Regions from separate parts of the Homo sapiens genome. Here region 1 is linked to region 2. The links come from fine-mapping of genetic effects on plasma protein levels. A gene starts in region 2. The other region holds a variant in brackets. All regions are shown on one strand. Distances are between the middles of the regions. Region 1 overlaps KCNT2 (potassium sodium-activated channel subfamily T member 2). Region 2 holds the start of CFHR5 (complement factor H related 5).

The links. PIP is the chance, under the fine-mapping model, that this variant and not a neighbour inherited with it causes the effect. Protein levels are from the aptamer-based SomaScan assay of Sun 2018.
Region 1: its variant is fine-mapped to the plasma level of the CFHR5 protein (Sun 2018, PIP 0.95).

What each region holds. Positions count from the first base shown.
Region 1 is chr1:196,332,223-196,337,615 of GRCh38, forward strand. It overlaps KCNT2 (potassium sodium-activated channel subfamily T member 2), which reads right to left. Exons shown (of 28, transcript NM_198503.5): 17 at 1,625-1,838. Among named protein-coding and RNA genes, the nearest start is that of LINC01724, 250 kb to the left of the region's middle. The variant T/C (reference allele first, on the strand shown) is at 2,537.
Region 2 is chr1:196,975,211-196,980,603 of GRCh38, forward strand. CFHR5 (complement factor H related 5) reads left to right here and starts at 2,346. Exons shown (of 10, transcript NM_030787.4): 1 at 2,346-2,512. The coding sequence starts at 2,455.

The DNA.
Region 1 (5,393 bases), 640 kb before region 2:
TGGTAATCTCTACAATTACTCAACATCTCTTTCGTTTTTCTAGAAATAAGAAAAAATCTTTTACCTCTCAATTTTTTAAGAAGTGTAAAGAAAGAATTTCAGTCGCACTCCAAAACACTGTTTCCTGTGAAGACACTGGTTGCCAAACCTATCCCTGTTCCCATCCTAGATTCCAAATACATTTGAGGACTTTGACCATTAATGTCTTTGAAGAGTAGATTTGGTTTTGTGGGTACACCAACCTTTCTTACAGTATTTTTTTAAGTGTGAGAAATTTAAACAAAGAATATTTTCAAGCTTCAATGACACTGAAGTTCTTCTTAGTTCAACATTACTTGAATTTACATTTTATGAAAGACACTGGAAGAAATGTCAGAGATTATGCTGCCAATGCCACTACTACCCGTAATATGACTAATAGTAATTAATACTAATTGAACGCTTACTCTACACAAAACATTGTTTTTGTATAAACACTTTTTCTCCATTATCTCAATTAATCACTAATAGCTTTCTGAAGTAGTAATTACACTCAGTTTACAGGTAAATAAATTATTGGCTAGTTTTTTTTTTTTTTTTTAAGACAGAGTCTCACTCTGTCGCCCTGGCTGGACTGCAGTGGCAGGATCTTAGCTTACTGCAACCTCCACCTCCTGCGTTCAAGTGATTCTCCTGTCTCAGCCTTCCAAGTAGGTAGGATTGCAGGCGCGCACCACCACTCCTAGCTAATTTTTATATTTTTAGTAAAGTTTGAGACCAGCCACACCACGTTGGTCAGGCTTGTCTCAAACTCCTGACCTCAAATGATCCTGCCATCTCGGCCTTCCAAAGTGCTGGGATTACAAGTGTGAGCCACTGTGCCCAGCTGCAAGTTTTTTTTTTTTTTTGTTTGTTTGTTTAATTAAAGTCACTTGTACACAACCAATATAAAGTGGAACTGGCATGGCAAGCAATGTCCTTAGTACTCCACAGTCAAGCCTGTGGACTGCTGTGTTTTCCTGAAGAATGACAATTTAATATGTGGAATAAGACATGCAAACAAACTCTACTGCAAGCTACAATGTGATTAATACTATATAGATTGGCGTTCTATTATTATGGAAGCCTAGAAAAGGGAAACAGTACTCCTTTTATTCATACATTTAAAATAATTAATGAATAGTGTATGAAAGTGCTGAACACTGAGATAAGTAAGGAAAGCTTAATGGAAGGGGCTGTGTTTTCATTTCATTGAATAATTGATTGAACTTCAATATGGATGTGCAATAAAGTAAATTCAAAGTATAAAGTACAATATACTATAAAAACCATACAATTATGAAAATGAAGCTTATATCTTGGGAACACTGATTTTTTTTTCCTTGAGGATAAAAGATAATTAAGAGCAAAATGAGACTGGAAATATATGTTGAAGCCAGAAACTTGAGGGCTTATAATGCTCTGCAGTCAAAAGAGATACTGGCTACTAGCAGTGCGTTTTGGTAGAAGTATATAGGAATGATTCTAGGATGTTCAGAAGGAAAGATCATTAGCTCCTTACCTATTGGGAAGGTATGTAAAGAAAATACTTAAGGACATTAGCACAAAACCCAGTAATCTTACACCTTAGAGTATCTGAACATACTCTAAGTTTGAAGACATTTCTTCATCTGGTGTAGTTTCATCTTCTGATTGGTCACTTAGAAGATCACATGTTTGAATCGATGATGTATCTGCAACCTCTAAAACAGGAGCAATGCTAGGTCTTCTTATTTCTTTGCTTCCCTCTGTAGGAAGAGACAGGGTAGGGCCACTTGCTGATCTACAGCTTGTATCTTGCAAGTCTATAGCCACAGTACCTAAAACAATAAAACATGAAAATTTATCAAGGCGTTTGCCATATTGATCACTAGTGTTGAAGGTTACATGAAATATGAAATATAATAAACACAATAAATATATATATAGAGAGAGTATATATTTATGCGTGTGGTGTATAAGTTTAGTTCTGATAGCTAAATATTTCTTTTGCACACAGGCATTTTCCTGGACAAGAAAATCTCTATTTGCACAAAAGTGTATTTGCAGAGTGTTGTTCTATGGCACAAAACATAAGATTTGTAAAATCCTGAAGTATATAGAAACTTAAAGTGAAAAAGTATACCCTGATGTTTCAATTTATATTTATTTAAAATTTATTCTTTTGTTGTTGACCATGTCCATTTTGTGAATTTTTCATTATGTGTTTCCCCTCTTTGCTTTTTCTTTTATTTCTTTCTTTCTTTCTTTTTTTTTTTTAAGACAGAGTCTCGCTCCAGGCTGGAGTGCAGTGGCACAATCTCGGCTCACTGCAAACTCCTCCTCCCAGGTTCAAGCGCCCCCTTTTCTATTGAGCTATCTTTTTGTAATTGATTTATGACCACTTTTTAAAATATCGGAACTACTAATATGTTATACTTATTTTGTATTAAATGAATATTTATTGAGTGCCACATATGGGGAGCACTGTTCCAGGTACTTGAGATCTGTAGAGAAGACAAACAAAGTTTCTACAAGA[T/C]GAAACCTGTATGTAGCAAGTAGACAAATAAATGGATAATTGTAGACAATAATCAGTAGCATGCAGGGAGAGGAATGGAATTTTTATTTGATAGGAGAGAAGGCCACTGTGAAGTTAGGACATTCGATTTTTGACCTGAAATACAATAAGGAGCACACAAGTCATGGAAGTACCTGGAGGCAGTAAGAATGGCAAGCCCAAGCCCAAGTGGCTTAAGGTTATTGAATACTTGAGGCATTCAAGGAATAGAAGGCAGAAGAAGCAATTCCCTTTGTGAATTTTATTGAAATGTAAAAATTAATTTTAATATCTATTTATGAAAAATTGAGGTTCCTCTCCTTCTGGAGAAAATAACGATGAAAGGCATCATATTTCATAATTACTTATTTCATTTATGTACTCAGTGGCACCTGGTCATCCTTCTAAAAGTTGCTAGTCTTTGCTTTGTCCCATTCTTTGAAACAATTACAGTCATGCATTGCTTAAAAAGGGGGATATGTTCTGAGAAATCTACCATTTGGTGATTTCTTAGATATTCAAACATCATACTTACACAAACCTAGATGAGGTAGCCTACTATCCTAGGCTATATGGTACATAGGCTATATGGTATAGCCTACTGCTATATGGTATAGGTATAGCCTACTGCCCCTAGGCTATATGGTATAGCCTACTGCTCCTAGACTACAAATCTGTACAGCATGTTACTGTACTGATTGGTGTAGTCAATTCTAACACAATGGTAATCTCAATATAGAAAACATACAGTAAAAACATGGTATTACAATCTTATTGGGACCACCATTGTATATGCTATCCATCATTGACTGAATTTATGCAGCGCATGACTATTTAAAATTCTACTTTCCTCAAACCTCTGGCCTTCCAAGCTTCTTCCTCATTATAATAACATGAACTGAAGAAATTTTTACCTTATCTCAGCCCTTCACTTCCATAGTGATTTTTTAGACCTTGTTATAACCAATAAAAACAATGTTGCACACATTTTTATGCATTCACCCTTTGATCACCACTATTTCTTGTTTGTTCAGGTCACTCTCACTGATTTCCTAACACTAGCTATGATTTTACCATGCTGGAACTTCAATTCTACTGATGATACCAGAGTTTGTCTCTCTCATTCCCTTGATGCTCTCTCTTCTCTTCTTAACTATCTTAAATTCCATGTTTAAGCATTATGATTATTTTCTTGCATATACCCCTGGATCCCTTGATACATTTTTGCTTCATTCCACCCTCTTGACAAAATAGAACCCTGCTTAAGTTAAACTCTCCATGTTCCCCATATCTATACCTATGCAACTGAATACACCCAGACAGTTTAGCTCTTGCATCATTAATAGTCTCTCCACATTGTCTGTCCTGATTTTTGGCAGTTTCACCATACACATAGATGATCCTTCCAACATTCCAGACTCAACTCCTTGTCCTCTTCTCTAGTAATGGCTTTTTCTACTATCACTCTTCAGTCCTTCACTCTCATGGCCACACCTTAGCTTTTGTAATTATTACTTGCTGCACATCATCTCTCCTTCTGGCATCTCACTCTTTGACACCTGTACCTTGGCTTTCCAGCTCTTTCCCTCTTGATTTTCACTGGAATTAGAATCGATTAATCCACTCTCCTTTCAGTCTTTTCTAACCAAAATACATCTTTTCACTTCCTTACTTAAATTAAGTTCCATGGCCTATAATTATATACAATCTATTATACAAACCCTCAATCTCTCTGCCTTCCTTACTTGCTTGTACTTTCAACACAAGCTACAAATCCATTTCTTTTCTCCGTTTTGCAGTCAGACGTTTTAAGAACTGTCCAGACCTACTGTTTCTAATTTATCTTCTACCATTCTTTCCCAAACGTAGTCCAATCTAGCATTGTCCACCACCACTCCATTGAAACAGCTCTTATGAGGGTGAACAATGATCATTGCATTGCTAAAGTCAATTGACACTTCTCAGTCCTTATGTTACGACCTATCAGTACTTGGCTTTCAGCCATGACCTATCAGACATGGCTTTACATGGTGTTGTCTTAATGCACTTAGCTCACTTGGATTCCAGGACACCTCACTCATTGGGTTTTCCTACTAGCCTGCCAGTAGCTCCTCTTTGGTCTCCTTTGCTGGTTTCTTCTCATCCCCCTGATACTTAATCTTAGTATACTGCAGAGCTTTGTCTTTTATTTTTTCCTGCCTGTACTCATTTCCTCAAAGACTTCATTTGGTCTTATGGCTTTAAATATATACATAAGATCAGAAATACAAAATTTACTTTTTCAGCCTATCTCTCTCTCTCTCCTGAAATCTAGACTCTTACATACAACTTCCTGTTAGACATCTTCAAGGTGTTCCAAAATACTCTTTATCTTCCCTTCACCCCCGCAAAACCTGCATTCCCCCTAGCCTTTCCTCTAAATTTATGGCCATTCTCTTTCCCTAGTTGCTTAATCCGAAAACCTTATGTTTCTTCACACTTCTCTTTTTCTCACAGTTCAATTTCATTTTGTAAGGAATCCTGATTATCCTCAAAGTACATGCAGAATTTTCTCCTTCTTACCACTTCCACTTGAAAATAGTCTGATCCTTGCTCCAAACCATCTATGTTCAACAGCAGCCTGAGTTGAGCACTCAGCATAGGTGAGATCAGGTCAATGGCTCTGCATAAAGCCTTGCAATAATTCCCACTTCACTGAGAGTAGAAGCTGCAATCCCATATGGACTTAAATAAGCCCAACAGGATCTGGCCTCTTTCTACCTGTTCGTCCTCATCTCCTACTATTCTTCCAGCATTCACTGTGTTTGAGGCACAAAGGGCCCTGTTACTGTTCCTGGAG
Region 2 (5,393 bases):
TACAAGAGGGGTTTAAGCGTAGTGTTGGGAATGAAAAAATGAATTAAAGTAGAGATTGTAGATAACATTGGAGTCATCGTATTATAAAATGAGAAGTGAATTAGATTACTAGAAAGAGATTTGGGTTCTATGAACAATTTTTGAGCTTTTGTTGTTGCTCTTCATGATGAAAGATGTTTGGTATGTTTGCATATTGGTGGAAATAATTTGGAAAATGGAGAAATTAATGATACAGGTGAGAAGGAATAATTGAAAGAGCAAAATCCTTGCACAGAAAAGATGGGATCAAATCTGGTAGAGACCATAACAAGATAGGAGTAAAGATCAACATCCAGTGAAGCAAGAGACAATGCAGAAAAGGATGCGTGTGAACAGCAGGTAGTTTTCTTCTGATTGATTCTATATCTAGATGAAAAAATAAATGAAGTCATTAGCAAAGCACAAAGTGAGGATTGGTGGTTAAGGAGGGAGATAATGAAAACAGGAGAGGGGAAAAGCAGTGTGGAAATTATTTAGGACCGTGTTCATTAATTTAAAGCAAGGCAAGTCAGCACAGTTGCCTTTGTTTTTCTTGTAGACACACTCTGCTGCTTCAATTCAGGCACAGGGCAGGTAGAGAATTTATTTGCAAAGGATTGAGGTTTTCTAAGACTTGGATTACAGATAGAAAGGAACGAATGGGCAGGAGAGTGTGTGCAAGGGACTGACTGACAGTGATGAGCCATGGAATCTAATTTAGATGTGGTGGGAAGAGAGAAAATGAAGGGAAGAGAATAGTGAAAAAGTGTCAGGGTCATTGAATGTTTGGAACAAATTTAGTAGAGTAAGTGAGCTAAAAAGATTGTTGAAATGGTCTAGAGTGTGATGCTTAATATTTAGATACTTTAGGTAGTGTAGTAATTGGAAATGACAAGGTTTAGATAGACTAGAATCAATAGTGGAGACTACTAATAGCTCACAGGGACTTCTCTGGTTTCTTGATTGGACATAGCTATGTGCATTCCCATTGACTTCTGAACCACCATAAGTAAGTTTCCTCTTAGTGAGATCATTAGGCTGTTTCTGTAAATTTCCCCATTAAATGTTAAATTTCTCTCAGGCTGGGCACTTTGTTGCTTGCTTCAGCTAGTATCCTCTAGTCTTCTCTGATTGTTTCCCACTGTAATCTCTTTGTATTCAATAGGATCCTCGGGCATGGACCTTTCCAAGCTATAAAGTCACTCTTCTCCAGCAGGGGAGCAGAGCTTCCAGTCCACATAGCCTGCCTGCCCATCCAGGGTTCAACTTCTGAGCCACGGAATTGGGCTGCGAGACAGAGGTGGATGAAAGCATCCGCTCTCTTTTACTGAATTTTATGGAGACTTTCTGGAAAAAATATTTCCCAACATTATGCTGTTTGGCCAATTTCCAGAGACAACCAATGGTTACTTTTAAATTTTTATCCAGTTTTATTGCTGCCTTTTGGTTGGGAGTGAATATACCAAGACCCTCACATAGCCATTCTCGAAGTCCCACCTGAACAAAATGATTTTGAATTATAATTCTGTTCTTCAAACATTTCAGGAAACGTTACTTGGCAAAAATTATTCTTTTTTTTTTTTTTTTTTTTTTTGAGACAGAGTCTCGCTCTGTCGCCCAGGCTGGAGTGCAGTGGCGCGATCTCCACTCACGGCAAGCTCTGCCTCCCGGTTTTACGCCATTCTCCTGCCTCAGCCTCCCGAGTAGCTGGGACTACAGGCGCCCGCCACCACGCCTGGCTAAATTTTTTTTGTATTTTTCAGTAGAGACGGGTTTCACCGTGTTAGCCAGGATGGTCTCGATCTCCTGACCTTGTGATCCACCCGCCTCGGCCTCCCAAAGTGCTGGGATTACAGGCTTGAGCCATTGCGCCCGGCCAGCAAAAATAATTCTTGATTAGACCTTTTATAGTTTATGAAATATTAAAACTGTTAAGAAGGTACCTAATTCTTAGTGCCAGTTTTAAAAGGGAATTTACAACTACAAAAGTGATATTGTTGTATTAAGATGAGGACTGATGACTTGCACTTGCTTGCCTTTTGAAACAGCTGAACCCTTGGCTAGAAAAAAAAAAAAAACCCAGGGGGCCGGCGGTGGGGAGCTTCCTCTCTCCTCTAAACAGTCCATTTCTGATTGTTCCAAACTCAGAGACTCGGTGACTACAACAAGGAAATTGAACAGCAGTTATTTTGCTTAAATAAATATTACATAACGAGCTGAGAATATTATTGTGAAGACACTGATTAGATACTATTTGCTTATTTCACACAACCCTCCATGAACTTTGATGTTTTCCACAAAGGGCTTTACTAAACTAGCTTCCCCTTAGTACATTGAAATTCAAAGTCATGCTTGTAACTGTTAATGAAAGCAGATTTAAAGCAACACCACCATCACTGGAGTATTTTTAGTTATATACGATTGAGACTACCAAGCATGTTGCTCTTATTCAGTGTAATCCTAATCTCATGGGTATCCACTGTTGGGGGAGAAGGTAAGTTGAAAACAGATCCGAATATTTTAGTTCCTTTTCAAATGTATTTATTGATTGTGTGTGTGTATGCATACAAATATTTTTAAATGAATAAATAGCTGAGGATAATTTGAAGGGGTATCACAATATTCATCTATTTTCTGGAAATATTTTCCAACATGCAATTAGCAGGAAAATTGAATGAAATTAATTCTCTCCGTTCTCTAGTTTGCTAAGGGTAAATGGTCACCAAATAGATAATGTAAAGAGAAATCAAAGGAGAGAAAATCTGCTATAATAAAGATGACAAGGTGAAATATTAGTGTAATTCTGCATAAACTCTGCAATGCCACTGACTAGAAAAATCAACCCCAAAAGATTTGGCCACCTTCATTATGTTTTGAGAATTTTATTTTCATAGATTTGATAATTTACATTTTAAATGTTATTAAAATGAAGGAATTCTCATTTCAGCCTAATTATCATTCAACAGGGAAATATATTTTAATGAAACAATAGAAAATATTATTTTTATATATAAACCAGTGAACTGCCAAAAAATTGTTTCTTCTGAGCTCTTCCACAAATTTCAAAAGTGAAATAATATATCACTTCTTTATTAATACTATAAACTGATTCTTATAACATTATAAACTATCCCATTTTATTTCATGTGGAAATTAAAGCCACTATATCAAAAGGATTGCAAACAAAATCTCTAACAAGGTCTAGGATACTGATTAAACTATGTGTGTACGTGAAGTTTCAATCATTGTGCTATATACTCTTTGATTTCCAGAAAGTTTTTATTTTACTGCTTTACTGCTTTCTAATGTTTACAGATCTTTAAATTTTTTGAACACTTTCTTCTCAGTCCTGACATAAGAGAAAAATATGAACCATAAAATGCTTTCTTTTTAAGATATGCCCTTACAAATGTTGCAAAACATTATTTCTATGGGCCTAAAATTCATTTTATTTTGTTTTCACTTTTAGTACTGAGCTATAATCACAAGAGTGCGATTGCATGAGTGTATTTGATTTTTCTTAAGTCTGTGTTTATGATATTTATTAAGTGGCTTAAACATCTGTTACAAATGGCATTACACAAGGATTTCTAAAGGGGGGTGGAAGCAGAGGAAGATAAGTGAAAATTATGAGGATAATATGTAGAATTTTGACAATTCCTAACCCCACAAAACTTTCAAGCTTCAGTCCAGTCCCAGGATAAACTTTAGTGAAATTCTATTAAAAGTTGTCTAGGTGTTAAATGACCTGTAAGTGTGCATTACACTTTTGTTTTGGTGTCTATTTAGAAACTGGCCAAACAGCAGAAATAACAGACGAAAGCAACACTTTTGTACAAATAGAAAACTGCATGCTTCCAGTAGCAAAACATGAATCAAGCAATATATTGTGCTTCATGCTGTAGCAAAGAAGCTGGAAAGAATATGACAACGCCACCCACCCCTCACTACTACTTAGAGTGTCCTAAAAGAAAAGCAAAATGTAAATAGGCAAATAAATTGCAAGGTTTTATATATAGGTAATTGTCTGTGTGTGTGTGTGTGTGTGTGTGTGTGTGTACACTCATACATCACTTAATGATAGGAAAACGTTCTGAGAAGTGTGTCTATAGGCAATTTCGTCCTCCTGCAAACATCATAGAGTGTACTTACACAAACCTAGATTGTATAGCCTACTACCTAACTAAGCTATACGGCCTGTCACTCCTAGACTGCAAACCTGTACAGCATGTTACTGTACTGAATACTGTGGGCAACTGTAGCACAAATGTAAGAATGTGTTTACCTAAACATATAAAAGGTACAATAAAAATACAATATAAAATATTAAGAATGGCAGACTTGTATAGGGCTCTTACCGTCAATAGGGTTTGCAGGACTGAAAGTTGTTCTGGGTAAGTCACTGAGTGAGTGGTGTGCAAATATGAAGGCTTAGCACATTACCATACACTACTGTAAACTTCATGAACACTGAATACTTGAGCTAGGTAAATTTATTTTATTTATATATTTATTTCAATATTTTGGGGGGAGCAGGTGGTTTTTGGTTACATGGATAAGTTCTTTAGTGCTAATTACTGAGCTTCTGGTGCACCCAGGATAGACTAAATTTATTTTTAAAACTTTTCTTCAATAATAAATTAATTTATGATAAGCTTTCTACTTTATCAACTGAAAATCTTTTAACTTGTAACTCTTTTGTTTTAGCTTAAAACACACCTTGTATAGATGTACAAAATATTTTTTCTTTCTATCCTTATTCTGTAAGATTTTTATCTTTTAAATTATTTATTTATTTACCTTCTACACCTTTTTGTTAAAAGCAGACACAAACACACACATTAACCTCGGCCTACGGAGGGTCAGGATCATCAGTATCACTGTCTTCCTCCTCACTCTTGTTCCACTAGAAGGTCTTTAGGGCAGTAACATGCATGGAGCTGTCCTCTCCTATGATAACAAAGCCTTCTTCTGGAATAGTTCCTGAAGGACCCGCCTGAGGATGTTTTACAGTTATTTTTTTTTAATAAGTAGAAGAAGTGAACTATAAAATAATGATAACAACTATAGTACATTAAATACATTAACCAGTACCATGGTCATTTATTATCATTATCAAGTATTGTGTACTATACATAATTGTGTGTGCTATTGTTTATATGACTGGCAATGCTGTAAGTTTGTTTATACCAGCACTGCCACAAACATGTGAGTAATACATTGGATTATGATGTTGTGGTGGTCATCAGTTGATAGGAATTTTTCAGCTACATTATAATCTTATGGGACCACTGTGATATAAGTGATCAGTCATTGACCAAAACGTCATTATGTGGTAAATGACTGTATGTCTGTATATATACGTGTGTGTGTGT